Linked DNA regions of Homo sapiens: all the other regions are linked to region 1. Evidence: fine-mapped expression QTL. A gene starts in region 1. Each other region holds a variant in brackets. All regions are shown on one strand. Distances are between the middles of the regions. Region 1 holds the start of PRKX (protein kinase cAMP-dependent X-linked catalytic subunit). Region 2 overlaps PRKX (protein kinase cAMP-dependent X-linked catalytic subunit). Region 3 has its middle 85 kb from the start of SNORA48B.

The links. PIP is the estimated chance that this variant, and not a neighbour inherited with it, causes the effect. A credible set is the group of variants that fine-mapping cannot tell apart.
Region 2: its variant is the best candidate, but not a certain one, in a credible set for the expression of PRKX in tibial nerve (GTEx, PIP 0.72).
Region 3: its variant is the best candidate, but not a certain one, in a credible set for the expression of PRKX in esophagus muscle (GTEx, PIP 0.87).

What each region holds. Positions count from the first base shown.
Region 1 is chrX:3,711,611-3,715,837 of GRCh38, reverse strand. It overlaps PRKX (protein kinase cAMP-dependent X-linked catalytic subunit), which reads left to right and starts at 2,189. Exons shown (of 9, transcript NM_005044.5): 1 at 2,189-2,750. The coding sequence starts at 2,585. RefSeq lists enhancers at 277-924, 3,256-3,565, 3,966-4,095 and silencers at 1,886-2,615, 2,636-2,765, 2,806-3,085.
Region 2 is chrX:3,612,821-3,617,047 of GRCh38, reverse strand. PRKX (protein kinase cAMP-dependent X-linked catalytic subunit) reads left to right here. Exons shown (of 9, transcript NM_005044.5): 7 at 1,156-1,233. Among named protein-coding and RNA genes, the nearest start is that of PRKX-AS1, 45 kb to the left of the region's middle. The variant A/C (reference allele first, on the strand shown) is at 2,214.
Region 3 is chrX:3,444,912-3,449,138 of GRCh38, reverse strand. No RefSeq gene overlaps it. Among named protein-coding and RNA genes, the nearest start is that of SNORA48B, 85 kb to the left of the region's middle. The variant G/A (reference allele first, on the strand shown) is at 2,160.

The sequences.
Region 1 (4,227 bases):
GTTTAGGGTCAGGGACTTATTCCTTCCGAATGGCAGAGTTCAGCAATTCCTGACTCCACCGCAAATTAATGCCACTTCATTAAGGCGGTAATGACCCTTCCATGCCTAACTCACAGGGATTTTCCTTTTTTGTCTCTCAAGTAATAGGCTGTGGTTTCTCAAGGATTTTTATGATCCTTCCAGATGAAAGCTGTTTTGTCAAGCAAGGTGTTGTGAAACGTGCAGGGTCTATTTATAAGAAGAGGTAGCTATGCGGTCAAGTTCAGGGTGGGTTCGGTGGAATCAGACCAACCAGCAGCTCAAGCAGAGTTTAACGCTGCAAATCTGTGCCACGTTCTTCTTCCTGCGTGCAATTTGCAGGCAAGGACATCTGCTTAATTGGGTGTGAAACCCGGGCCTTGATTAAAAGGACTTTATGAGGCCGCAGCCTTGCATTTCCAAGGTCAGGCCCTAGTGGAGAGGGCGCGCGTTCCGCGGGGAGACACGAACTTTTCCTGAGTGCGCGTTCCTTGCTGGCCCTGAACCCCTCGGCCAGGCAGGGCTTGGCAGGGCCGTTTCCTGTCCTAACCAGGATCAAGGGATTGCGCGGCTTGCTGGTGAAGCTTGGCAGGGCCGTGACCTGTCCTAACCAGGCTCAGGGGATGGCAGGGGCCTGCTGGTGTCGCATATGTTTTGCATTCCAGCTCAGGATTTTGCAGAGCATAGGGAGCGGGTGTCACCCCCGGGGGGAAATGCCACCCACAAAATGCAGGTGGAGGCTGGGCGAGGCTGGCAGCCAGGGGCCAGAAATCCAAAGCCTGAGCCAGGTTCAGACTTCCTGACTCCCCCTCCCCGTTAGCTGTGGAAGGATGGCTCGGCCTGGTCCCCCTAAAAATGTGTCCGTTCTGACTTAGAGGCCGCTTTGGCTCTCGGAAAGCCCCCCTGACCTGCGGACTGAGGGACTGGAGACCCCCTCCAATCGCAGAATCGCTGAGATCCCTCAAAACAAAGGCGTTTGCAGTTTGACCCCTTGCTGCTCAAACTGTGGTCGGCGAACCGGCAGCCTGGGCCGCCCTGGTCGCGGGTCAGGGGCGCAGCGTCCAGGCCGTGCCAGGCCCGCAAGTTAAGCACTGTCTGCATTTCCCTGGGGAAAGGGGTGACCAAATATCTAGCTATATTTGCATTTCAAATCCACACGGATATGGGTTTTAAATATAAGTATGTCCAACTATTGCCTGAGCCACACTTAAGCCAGGAAAAAAAAATCTTTGGGGTTTCTGAAATTGAAATGCCTCTGCACAATTCTTTATAGGGTTGTCGCCGGGGTGTTTGAAACAGTGACCAATCAAGTTTCACGCACTACATTTGGTCGGGCGATCTCTCAAATCTGTCTTTCCCTAGTTTTTTAAAGGAATGTTTATTTGTAAAGAATTCTAGATCCACAGGAAGCTGCAAAGAAACGCACAGGGTCGAGCCCGCCCTTCCCCGCCCCTTCCAAGTAGAAATCTAGAATCACCAGAGTCCTACAGCAAAACCAGGACGCTGAACTCATCCCGAAGACCCGGCAGCCCCTCTTGGGGATCCGCCCTCATTCCAAATTCTCTCAGGTCCCAAACAAGCACCCGCAGGAGTACTGAACTTTTTGGGGGGAGGGCAGAGGGGATCTGTATGCAGATTGCCAGCTGAGCAATCCTATTTTCTATGACTTAAAGCCAATCAGAGGCTGGGCGTGGTGGCTTATACCTGTAGTCCCAGCACTTTGGGAGAACGAGGCAGGCGGTTCACTTGTGCTCAGGAGTTCCAGACCAGCCTGGCCAACATGGTGAAACCCTGTCTCTACTGAGAAAATACAAAAATTAGCCGGGCTAATCCGAGCCCCTCTCTTCACCAAACGCCAGTTTCACTTTTTAGTTTTGAACTTCACTTCTGCTGAGCTACGCCCTCCCTGTCCCCGGGCCCCCTCGCCTCCCCATCTTCCGGGCTTGGGTGCAGCGACGCGGGTGGCCCGCCAGTGCGTCCCCGAGGAGAAGTCAGCCTGGGTCCCACCCCAGGGGTGCCCCGGGCGCGGAGGGGGCGTGGGCACCTCCCCAGCGCCGCACGCCCGGGTCTCCGGCTCCTGGGCTGGGTCGGGGCGGGGGCGGAGCGCGCGCGAAGGCGACGCCCCCAGCCCCGCGGCCGGGTTAGGGCGGGGAGAGGCGCGGTCACGCCCAGGCGGCTTCCGCCCGCCCCAACAGCGCGCACGCGGCTACCGAGCTGGAGGAGGCGGCGGGCGCGAGACCCGGAATGCGCAGGGCCCCCGCCTCGCCCCCCCCAGCCCGGGCCGCGGCCCCCGCCTTCCCCGCAGTCGTCCCGCACTCGGTGCCCGCCCCCCGAGGCCGGCGGCTGCTCCCACTCGGGGCCGTTGCTGCTTGTGCCGTGAGCGCCGCCCAGCCATTGTCCCCGTCGCTCCGTCAGCCGCGCCGGACCGCGCACCAGGAGGCGAGAGCGCGCATGGGGAGCCTCTGTTGATGCCGCCGCCGCGCCGCCCTCCGAGGCTGCGTCCCGGGAAGCCCGGCTCCCCGAGCGCTCCGGCCTGGCCCGGTGCCCCGGACCTGAGTGCGTCCCCATGGAGGCGCCCGGGCTGGCCCAGGCGGCCGCGGCGGAGAGCGACTCCCGCAAGGTGGCGGAGGAGACCCCCGACGGGGCGCCCGCGCTCTGCCCCAGCCCTGAGGCGCTGTCGCCGGAGCCGCCTGTGTACAGCCTGCAGGACTTTGACACGCTGGCCACCGTGGGTGAGTGAGTGCGGGCGGGGACTCGGCCCACAGGGGCGCGCGGCGTGGCCGGGACGTTGTAGTAGGACAAAGGGCCCTGGGTGCCGACCTCCTGGGGAGGGCCCTGACCCGCTACTTCGGCTCGGAGTCCCCGTGCGGGGCTGCACCTGCGCCCCGGGTCTTCCCGGGTGGAGCGCACTCCCCAGCCCCCCAGCCCAGGCAAGTACCCCCGACCGGCCGGGTGCCTAACCTGAAATGCCGACGGCTCCTCTCGGAGACCACCCTCCACCCCCAGCACACACAGCACTCTGGGGCCTGGGCCGTCCGACGTCACAAAACCTCCTGCGGGTCACCTCGCCTGGGGGACCTCGTGCTCCCTCCCTGGCAGCGGCCCCAGGGACACTGGCGCGGGGTGCGAAGACCCCTGCAGGCCTCCCCTAGGCCAGCCTCCCTGTGTGCCCAGAGGCAGGGAATGTACAGATTTCTCCAGGGGCTGCAGGAGCAGCTGGGCTGTGGGGGACAGGTGTCCCGGGGCGCTGTGGGGACGAGGACGGCAGCGCTGGGGACGGATCCTAACATGTCCTGACACCGCCTGTGCTCTTCGTCTTGTGCCTCTGAAATGGGTAATTCTTGTATCGGACGCTTTATCCGTTTCCTTTGTCCTCTGTCTTTGAACTTAACCCCGAATGGGCAGCTTGACAGAGAGGTTTCGAGTTCTCGGTGCTCTTGCATCCGGACACGCGCTGCTTTATGGAGCAGCCCTGAGTGGGTCAGAATATCCCAACTGAACGTGGGCGCTGGATTTAAACAGTTGTCATCGGCCCGCCTGTGCCACTTAGGGACTCCGTATGGCTAAGTGGGGTGTTGGCTGTCAAGAAAATAAATGGGAGAGTAGAGGGGGCTGTCCTGGGTGTGTTGGTGAGGCGTCGGCTCTCAGGCCCTCTAACTCCTGTTTGTCCTCATTTTGGAAAGGAGGAAGCTGGGCTGGGAAGCCCAAGGGCTCGAGGCCATAGCTTATGACTTAGGAAGACCAGCGGGCATAGCCAGTGGGGCCTTTAGAACCGCTGAGGAAGAGGGGACTTAGCTTCCTTCAGTGACCTCTTTGCCACTTAGACCTTGAGGAAGGGCCCACGAGGAAAGCCTGAATTTGGAAGGACAGAGTGGGAGGAGGCCCTCTCTCTTTCTCCTCTCCCTCCCTCCTCCTCTTTATCTCATTCTCTCTCTCTTTTCTCTGTTTCTCTTCTCTCTCCCTCTTTCTGTCTCTGTTCAAGTCTCTCTGCATTTCTCCTCCTCTGTCTCTTGGTGTCTCTCTCCCTGTCCCCTTCCGGTCTTGGTTTTTCTGTCTCCCTCCCTCCTCTCTCTCTGCCTTCCCCCTTGTCTTGGTCCCCCCGGAAAGCTGTCCTGGTCTAATCTTAGAGCTGGGTGTGTTTTGCGCGGAAGAAGGGTGGGGCAGGAACCCTGACTGGCGCAGCCGCCACAGTAGGTGGAAATACAACTC
Region 2 (4,227 bases), 99 kb after region 1:
GTGTGTATGTGTATAAGTATGTATATATCAATCTATGTGTGTATATATGTATGTGTGTGTGTATATATTACTATGTATGCATGTGAGTATATACAGACACACACATCCTTTAGTATCCAAATTAGAATTTTATCTGATGGATAAAATTTATTTTATTCTCTTATTCACAGCACTCTTATTTATTCTTATTCACAACATTGCTGAAGGGAAAACTCAACAGCTATTGTTTGTTGCCTGACTTAGCTATAGATCAAAAATACCTGTTTTGCAATAAGAAAAGAAAAAGTTGTCAAAACAACTGGATGGGAAAACAATAGAAAAAATTCACATTACTGTTTCCTTTTGAAGATATGGTTGTGGACGTATTCCTCTTTAAGGATAAGAAATTTGAAACTACAGTAATGCTAACTGATAGACGCGTTAAATTCAGATGTACTGGCTTCTGTTTCATGGAACCTACGTTTATTTCTTCTGCTGTCCCACATTTAATTGATAACGACATCACTACAAGTATAAGAAAAGGAAGCAGAGTGAGGTTTACGGATGAGCACTTGGGAGGGATTTCAGAGGTCGTGATGGCCACAGTGTGAGCCAGCGATGCCTGGTGCTACCCTTGAGCATGAAGCAGGCCGACTTGAACGCACCTTGTTAATTGCCAGGCCGTGCAATGTCGTTCCTAAGGTCTCTTAAACTGGACATCCTTGGTTTGAGTTCCCAGTCTTGTTATTTACTTGCTGGGTCCTACGGAGCAAATTAACATCATTCCTTGAACCCTAGTTTCTATGTCTGTAAAATACTGAGTAAGTTTGCCAAGATGAAAACAGGAGACAAACTGAGAAACTACTGGCTGTCCAATTTTATGTCGAGAGATGGAATCGTATTTACCTTTTTCGTCTTTGGTCCGGAATGCAAATGCATTGCACAGGAGCAGAATGACTGGATTTGTTTCTGCGGCAAAAAAGGGCAAACAAAACACTAACAGCTTTGCTTGCAGGTTTTCCTGGCAGCTCACCCTCCAGGCACAGTTCTCCAAAATGCAGCAAACTTGGTCTGTTTGTTTCAATACTAAAATAATGTAGAGATTCTTTGGGGTATTTTTCTTTCCTGCCCTGTCAAAATTCTGTACACTGACGACATGTGTTGTTTCTTTTGAAGAACGGGGCGAATGATGTGAAGCATCATCGGTGGTTCCGCTCCGTGGACTGGGAAGCTGTTCCGCAGAGAAAACTGAAGGTACAACACATATCAGTGGGTGACTCAGTATGCCCGAGCTCTTCCATTAGCAGGGACTGCCTCTGAATCCTGGGACTTCTTTATTGATGGCTGACATGTGATTAATTTATATAATACAACTATTTGTCTAAAACTGTTCATAAGCCAAGTTCCCCACTCTTTGAGTGTCTTAGTGCTAACCATCTACCTAGCTCCCACAAAGGCAGGAGCCACCACACCCAGTCATATACCACATGTTCTTTGTCCATTCATCCCTGGATGGACACTTATCCCAGATTTTGAAGCAGATTTTAGGAGACCTGGCCTGATTCCTGACTAGCTCTGTGACTGCTAAACCCTACTCCCTCCTCTTTAGTGGAAAGCGGTCAACAGGATTACAGAGATAAGCAAGCGTCTAGCACCATGGTCATCGTTCAGTGATGGTGGTGTATTACATGGAGAATATTCTTTGGAACGTTTCTGGCCAAACTGCCTATTTTTAAACATCTGGCTTTTTGGCTGGGTGCTGTGGCTCACGCCTATAATTCCAGTACTTTGAGAGGCCAACTCAGGCAGATCACTGGAACCCACGAGTTTGAGACTAGCCTGGGCAATATGGTGAAATCCCGCCTCTACAGAAAATACCAAAATTAGCCAGGCGTGGTGGCATATGCTTGTGGTACCAGCTACTTGGGAGGCTGAGGCACAAGAATTGCTTGATACCAGGAGGCGGAGGTTGCAGTGAGCCAAGATTATGCCACTGCACTCCAGCCTGGGCGACAGAGCCAGACCCTGTCTCAAAAAAAAAAAAAAAAAAAAAAAAATCTGGCATTTTTTTCAATGTATAATACTTGTCCATTTTATAAATGAGGAGACTGTGCTCAGAGAAGTTAAGCAATGTGTGGAAGGTTACACAGCTGCTAAGCAGTGTAACTATCACAGGTACATATTTATGGGGGTACATGTTATATTTTGACACACGCATAGAATGTGTAATGATC[A/C]ACTGAGGGTAACCAGGGTATCCATCAGCTCAAACATTTATCATTTTTATGGGTTGGGAATATTGCAAATCTAGCTATTCTGAAATATACAATATATTGTTAACTCTGCCCACCCAACTATGCTGTCAAACACTGGAACTTATTCCTTTTATCTAACATTATGTTTATGCAATATTTCTTCATCTCCCCTTCATCCCCTAGCTATACACACTTCCCACCCTCTGGTAACTATCATTCTACTCTCAACCTTCATGACATCCATTTTTTTAGCTCCCACATATGAGTGGGAACACGCTGTGTTTCTCATTCTGCGTCTGGCTTAGTTTATTATTTATTATTTATTTTTTGAGACAGCGTCTTGCTCTGTTGCCCAGGCTGGAGTGCAGTGGCACGATCTTGCTCACTGCAGCCTCCACCTCCTGGCTTCAAGCAGTTCTCATGCCTCAGCCCCCTGAGTAGCTGGGATTACAGACGCCCAGCTAATTTTTGTATTTTTACTAGAGACGGGGTTTCACCATGTTGGCCAGGCTGGTCTCAATCTCCTAACCTCAAGTGATCCACCAGCCTCAGTCTCCCAAAGAAGTGCTGGGATTACAGGCATGAGCCGCTGCACCCGGCCTGGCTTAGTTTACTTAACATGATGGTCTCCCATTCCATTCGTGGTGCTATAAATGACAGGATTTCATTCCATTTTATGGCCGGATAGTTTTTCATTGTGTGTATGGACCACACTTTCTTTATCCTTTCATCCATTGGTGGACACTTAGGTTGATTCCATATCTTGGCTTTTGTGAACACTCTGAACTGCATATGTTACTGATGGGAGTGGTCAATGGTAGTGTTTTCACCTTTGCACTTCAGAGTTAAAAGAATGGAGAATGCTTAGAAATGCTTATTCCTAGTCCTCAGCTCAGACCAGAGTTTCTGGGGCTGGAGCCTGGGATGATACGCTTCTTTTTTTTTTTTTTTTTTTTTTTTTTGAGATGGAGTCTCACTTTGTCGCTCAGGCTCGGGGTGTAGTGCAGTGGAGTGATCTCAACTCACTGCAACCTCCACCTCTTGGATTCAAGTGATTCTTCTGCCTCAGCCTCCCAAGTAGCTGGGATTACAGGTGTGCGCCACCACATCCAGCTAATTTTTTTGTGTGTTTTTAGAAGAGATGGGGTTTCACTATGTTGGCCAGGCTGGTTTCGAACTCATGACCTCAAATGATCCACTCTCCTCGGCCTCCCAAAGTGCTGGGATTACAGGTGTCAGCCACTGGGCCTGGGCTGATGCATCATTTTGTTCAAAGTTTTACCTTTTCAAATACTTTATTGTATTAAATTGCATTAAAAAAACAATTTGAATACGTTTTATCTATCCACATTGGTCAAAAACCAAGTCAATATTAAAACAGATATATTGCCAAGTCTCCCTCTTACCCCCTCCAAGCCACCTGTAGGTAATCACCTTTTATTGTTTTTCTGTGTATCCTTCTAGAGTTTCTTTGTGCTAATAAAAACCCACATGGATACATGCATTCTTATTTTTGCCACTCATTTATACAAATCTAGAGTAGCGTAGTATGTACATTATTATAGTCTTGCTTTTTGCACTTGACTATATAATCTGGAGACCTGTCTACATACCTGGCTAGCTTCCTCATTTTTTTTTTTTTTTTTTTTTTTTTTTTTTTTTTTTTGAGACGAAGTCTTGCTCCGTTGCCCAGGCTGGAGTTCAGTGGTGCGATCTCGGCTCACTGCAACCTCCGCCTCCCAGGTTCAAGCGATTCTCCTGCCTCAGCCTCCCAAGTAGCTGGGATTACAGGCACCCACCACTATGCCCGGCTAATTTTTGTCTTTTCGGTAGAGACAGGGTTTCTCCATGGGCCAGGCTGTTCTCGAACTCCTGACCTCAGATGATCCTCCCACCTTGGCCTCCCAAAGTGCTGGGATTACAGGCATGAGCCACTGCGCCTAGCCAGCTTCCTCATTTTAAAAAATACTGCATTGTATTCCATCACATGACTGTA
Region 3 (4,227 bases), 270 kb after region 1:
TACCTAGCAATTTCCCAGAGAGCAAAAAGCATAATTTCTACTCTCCCCAATCAGAGGAGTATAAAGCAATTTTATTTAGATGTCGTTCCTGTGGCCTGGGTCCCAGAGAGTTCTAAAGGTGTGGTTCCTTCCCACCATTGTTAGGGAGAGGATATTTGGTGGACGTATACCAAAACTCACAACAATTCAGGCATTGCTTCTTTGCAATGCTGAACTATATATTCCAGTATATATTTTTCCCCAAATGCATTGGTTTAAATATAGTTGTTTGTCTGATACATGGAAATCTGCTTAAGCTAAATAACAGACTCGTCTCTTCCTTGACAGGAAGCTCTTATTTCCTGCACGCACTGGGAAGGCCATTGTTTGCCTCACTCTTGCTCCTGAATGACATATTTCAGCCCATGCAGTAGCATCAATGGTAGGAAATTTATGGAGGTACCTGCTTATTAGATGTGCTGCGTTATCATCAACTGGATTCATACAAATGGCCAGATGGCAAAGAGAATGTGAGCCTACACGACTGTTCCTGGAGTTTCAAAGAGAGCCCAAGACACACCTCTGTGTAATTGGCTATTTAGCGTCTGGCCTAAACAAAGCAGGGATAAGAGCTTGAGTTTCCACATTCCTTTCCTTATACCTGGGAATATCCAGGATTGACCTCGAATCCTTTGAAATCACTCACAATGTACCCCTCAGAGTGCTGAACCCAAATGAAATCTGTGCATGGGGAAGCTCTGATTGAGTACACACTGAAGCACATTTCCATAGTAGGAATAGTTAGAGAGAGAGAGATGATGGATAGATAAATAGATAGATGATAGATGAATAGATAGATAGGTAATAGATTTTATATAGATAGATAGATGATAGATAGATAATGGATAGATAAATAGATGGGTGATAGATGATAGAGACGTGGATAGATAGGTGACAGATGATAAATACATAGAGAAATAGATGATGGATAGACAGATGATGGATAGATAGATGAATAGATAGATATAGATGGATAGATGGGTGGGTGATAGATGATAGATAGATAGATAGATAGATAGATAGATAGATAGATAGATAGATAAATAGATGATACATAGATAAATGACAGATGTCCACCATGAGGTTCTGGCTCTCAGTGGTTCCCCAGAACCCTCTGTTTATGACTCTGTCTTCCAGCACAGTTAATCTGTCAAATGTCAATTCCAGGAGCATTTTACCAGAAAGTTCCCCACCCTGTCAGCAAAGCACGAGCCCTTCCCCTACGAGGCCACACTGCCACCAGTAGCAGGGCTGGCTGGGCCCACACAGGTGTACACACTCAGGGAGCATTACTCAACCCAGAGCCTATGCAGAAGAAATCAGTGAGGAACAAATTGTTTCCCGTGTCCCTTCTGCCATCTTGGCAAAAATAAATGCTGAAGAATTAAAACGCTGCCTACACATGTACCCATGTGCTTCCTCTGGGTCCTGGTGATGGGAAGTGGGAGCTGTACCTTAACGACCATAGTAGGATCCTCTGGCTGACCTCTTCAGCTGGCCGATGTCCAGTTGCTTCCTTTGGAGGCCTATCACTCAACCATATTGCAGATTGTATGATCCATTTGACCTAGCAATAGATAAGTGAGGGGTTAGACACCCAGAGATGGTCTCTTAGCTCAGGATGCTCAACAAAGTGTGATAGCCTTGGGGGCTTAGACCACAGATGTTTATTGCTCACAATTCTGAATGCTGGATGTCCAAGACCAAGGCATGGCAGATTCAATGTCTGGTGAGGACTTGGTTCTTTGTTCATAGACAGTGCCTCCTTGCTGGTTCCTCACATGGTGGAGAGGGTGAGATGGACAGAGTGAGGGAGGGAGGGAGGGAAGGAAGGAGAGAAACATATATATAGAGAGAGATTGAGACAGAGAGAGAGAGAGTGAACTCCCCAGAGTGTCTTCTTATAAGGACACTAATCCTACCGGATCAGGTCTCCATCCTTATGACATTGGTATTAGTTTGTTCTCAGGCTGCTAATAAAGACATACCCAAGACTGGGTAATTTATAAAGAAAAAGAAGTTTAATGGACTCACAGTTCCACATGGCTGGGGAGGCCTCACAATCATGGCAGAAGCCAAGGAGGAGCAAAGTCCTGTCTTACATGGCAGCAGCCAAGAGA[G/A]CATGCGCAGGGGAACGCCTCTTTACAAAACCATCAGATCTGGTGAGACTTATTCACTACCACAAGAACAGCATGGGAAAGACCCACCTTTATGATTCAATTACCTCCTACTCGGTCCCTCCCATGACGTGGGGATTATGGGAGCTACAGTTCAAGATGAGATTCAGGTGGGGACACATCCAAACCATAATATCATTGAATCTTAATTACATCTTGTTAAATTAAGTTTAGCCTAAAGCTGCCTCCTCACATATTTTAAGTTCAACCTCAAAGCTTCTCTGCACACAGTGCACTGTAACCTAACTGGATGTGCAAACATGCAAATGGACTGGAATCCACTCCTGTGCCAACCACCAAGTTTTGACCAGTCAAAGGTGGCCAATGGTACAAATTGTGTTCAAATAAGGTAAATGCCAAGCTGTAACCAATCCAGCTGTTTCTGTACCTCACTTTCATTTTTCTGTCCATAAATCTTTGACCATGCAGCAAAGCCAGAGATTGAACCTATTCTGGTTTTGGGGGGCTGCCTGATTTGGGAATCATTCTTTGCTCAATTAACCTCTGTTAAATTTAATTTGTCTAAGGTTTTTCTTTTAACAGACATTATTCCAAATACACCCACACTGGCAGTTAGAACTTTGTCATATGGATTTGGGGGGAAGGGAAAGAAACATTGAGACTTGAACAGATGGACATATCCAACAGCCAGTATTCTGTGTGTTGAAGGTAGGGCTCCCCACTTCCATTAATTAGCCTAATAAATGGTTTGGTGAAATATTTCCCAAAAGTAAAAAGAAAAAAAAAAGAAAATAATCACCTGTATCAGGTGGTCCTTCTCGAGTTTTATGTTTTCAGTTTTTTTTTTTTTTTTTTTTTTTTTGCACATGGATGAAATGTAGAATGCAGTCCTACAAATAAGCTTACTCTTTTGCCAGCACTGGGCTCTTTTCCAGGTGGGCATATGGGCTAGTTTAGTATTCCCACCTAGTCAGAGCTCAATAAAAATTAAAATAGAAAAAGTGCTGAATCGACACAGATGGTTACAGTGGTGCATGGTTATGGTAGTGAGATAAAAGCCAAATTTGCAAATGCAATTTGATAGAGCCCTTGGCGGTCATCGTTTGTCACTGTTAACATTAGCTGTCCTTCCTGGACCACAACTGTCCTTCCTGGACCACCCTGATGGATTGGGTGTCAAAGGTTACTGAACTCACTTTTAGGCATGCAAACTGCAAAATGTGCACACTTAGTATCTGTTCGCTAATCTGAAGGGCTGCAAATCTCCCACTAAGCTGGAAGAATGGGGTGGAGTAAATTCAGTGCAAAGCAGAGACCCTCTTGGTGTGTCCATAGGTTCATGGTTCCTTCTGGGGAAATGCATGGCCTGTTCTTCATGTCTTGCCGTCAGCCATCATCACCAAGAGCTTCTTCAAGCTGAGGTCTGGAAGTGAAATGTGGGGAGCAAACTACATCCTAGCCATGGAGAGAAGGCCTTGAGTTAAGGGAGGCTCAGCAGAAGAATAGCTGTGCTGCTGCTTGAGCCTTGTCTGGCTTCATCCACCTGCATGCTGCTGGCACTGGGGCTGGAGCCTGCAGCCTGTGTACCTGGGGTTTTGGCCTGATCAGGGCTCCATTGCCACCCATATGGACCCTTTGAGTCTCAGCTATGTCCCCCATCTGGCCCTGACCTGGGTGACTCCCCTTGAGACTCTGTATGTTTATGTGTCTGTATGCGTATGTTCTGTATGAACTTGTGTACGCACATGTATTTCTGTGTGTTCATGTTTGTATGTGTAGATGCACAAATGCATGCATTTCTGCATGAGTGTATTATGTATGTGTGTTTGTATATGCACATGTGTTCCCATGTATGAGTGCATGGGTGTACATTCATGCAGGCATATGTATGCACGAGTTTCTGTATGATTTTATGTATGCATGCATTTGTGTGTATATATGTGCATTCATGCAGGTGTATGTATTCATGGGTTTCTGCATAAGTTTATGTGTGCATGTGTTTTTGTGTATAAATGTGCATGCAAGCAGTTGTATGTATGCATGGGTTTCT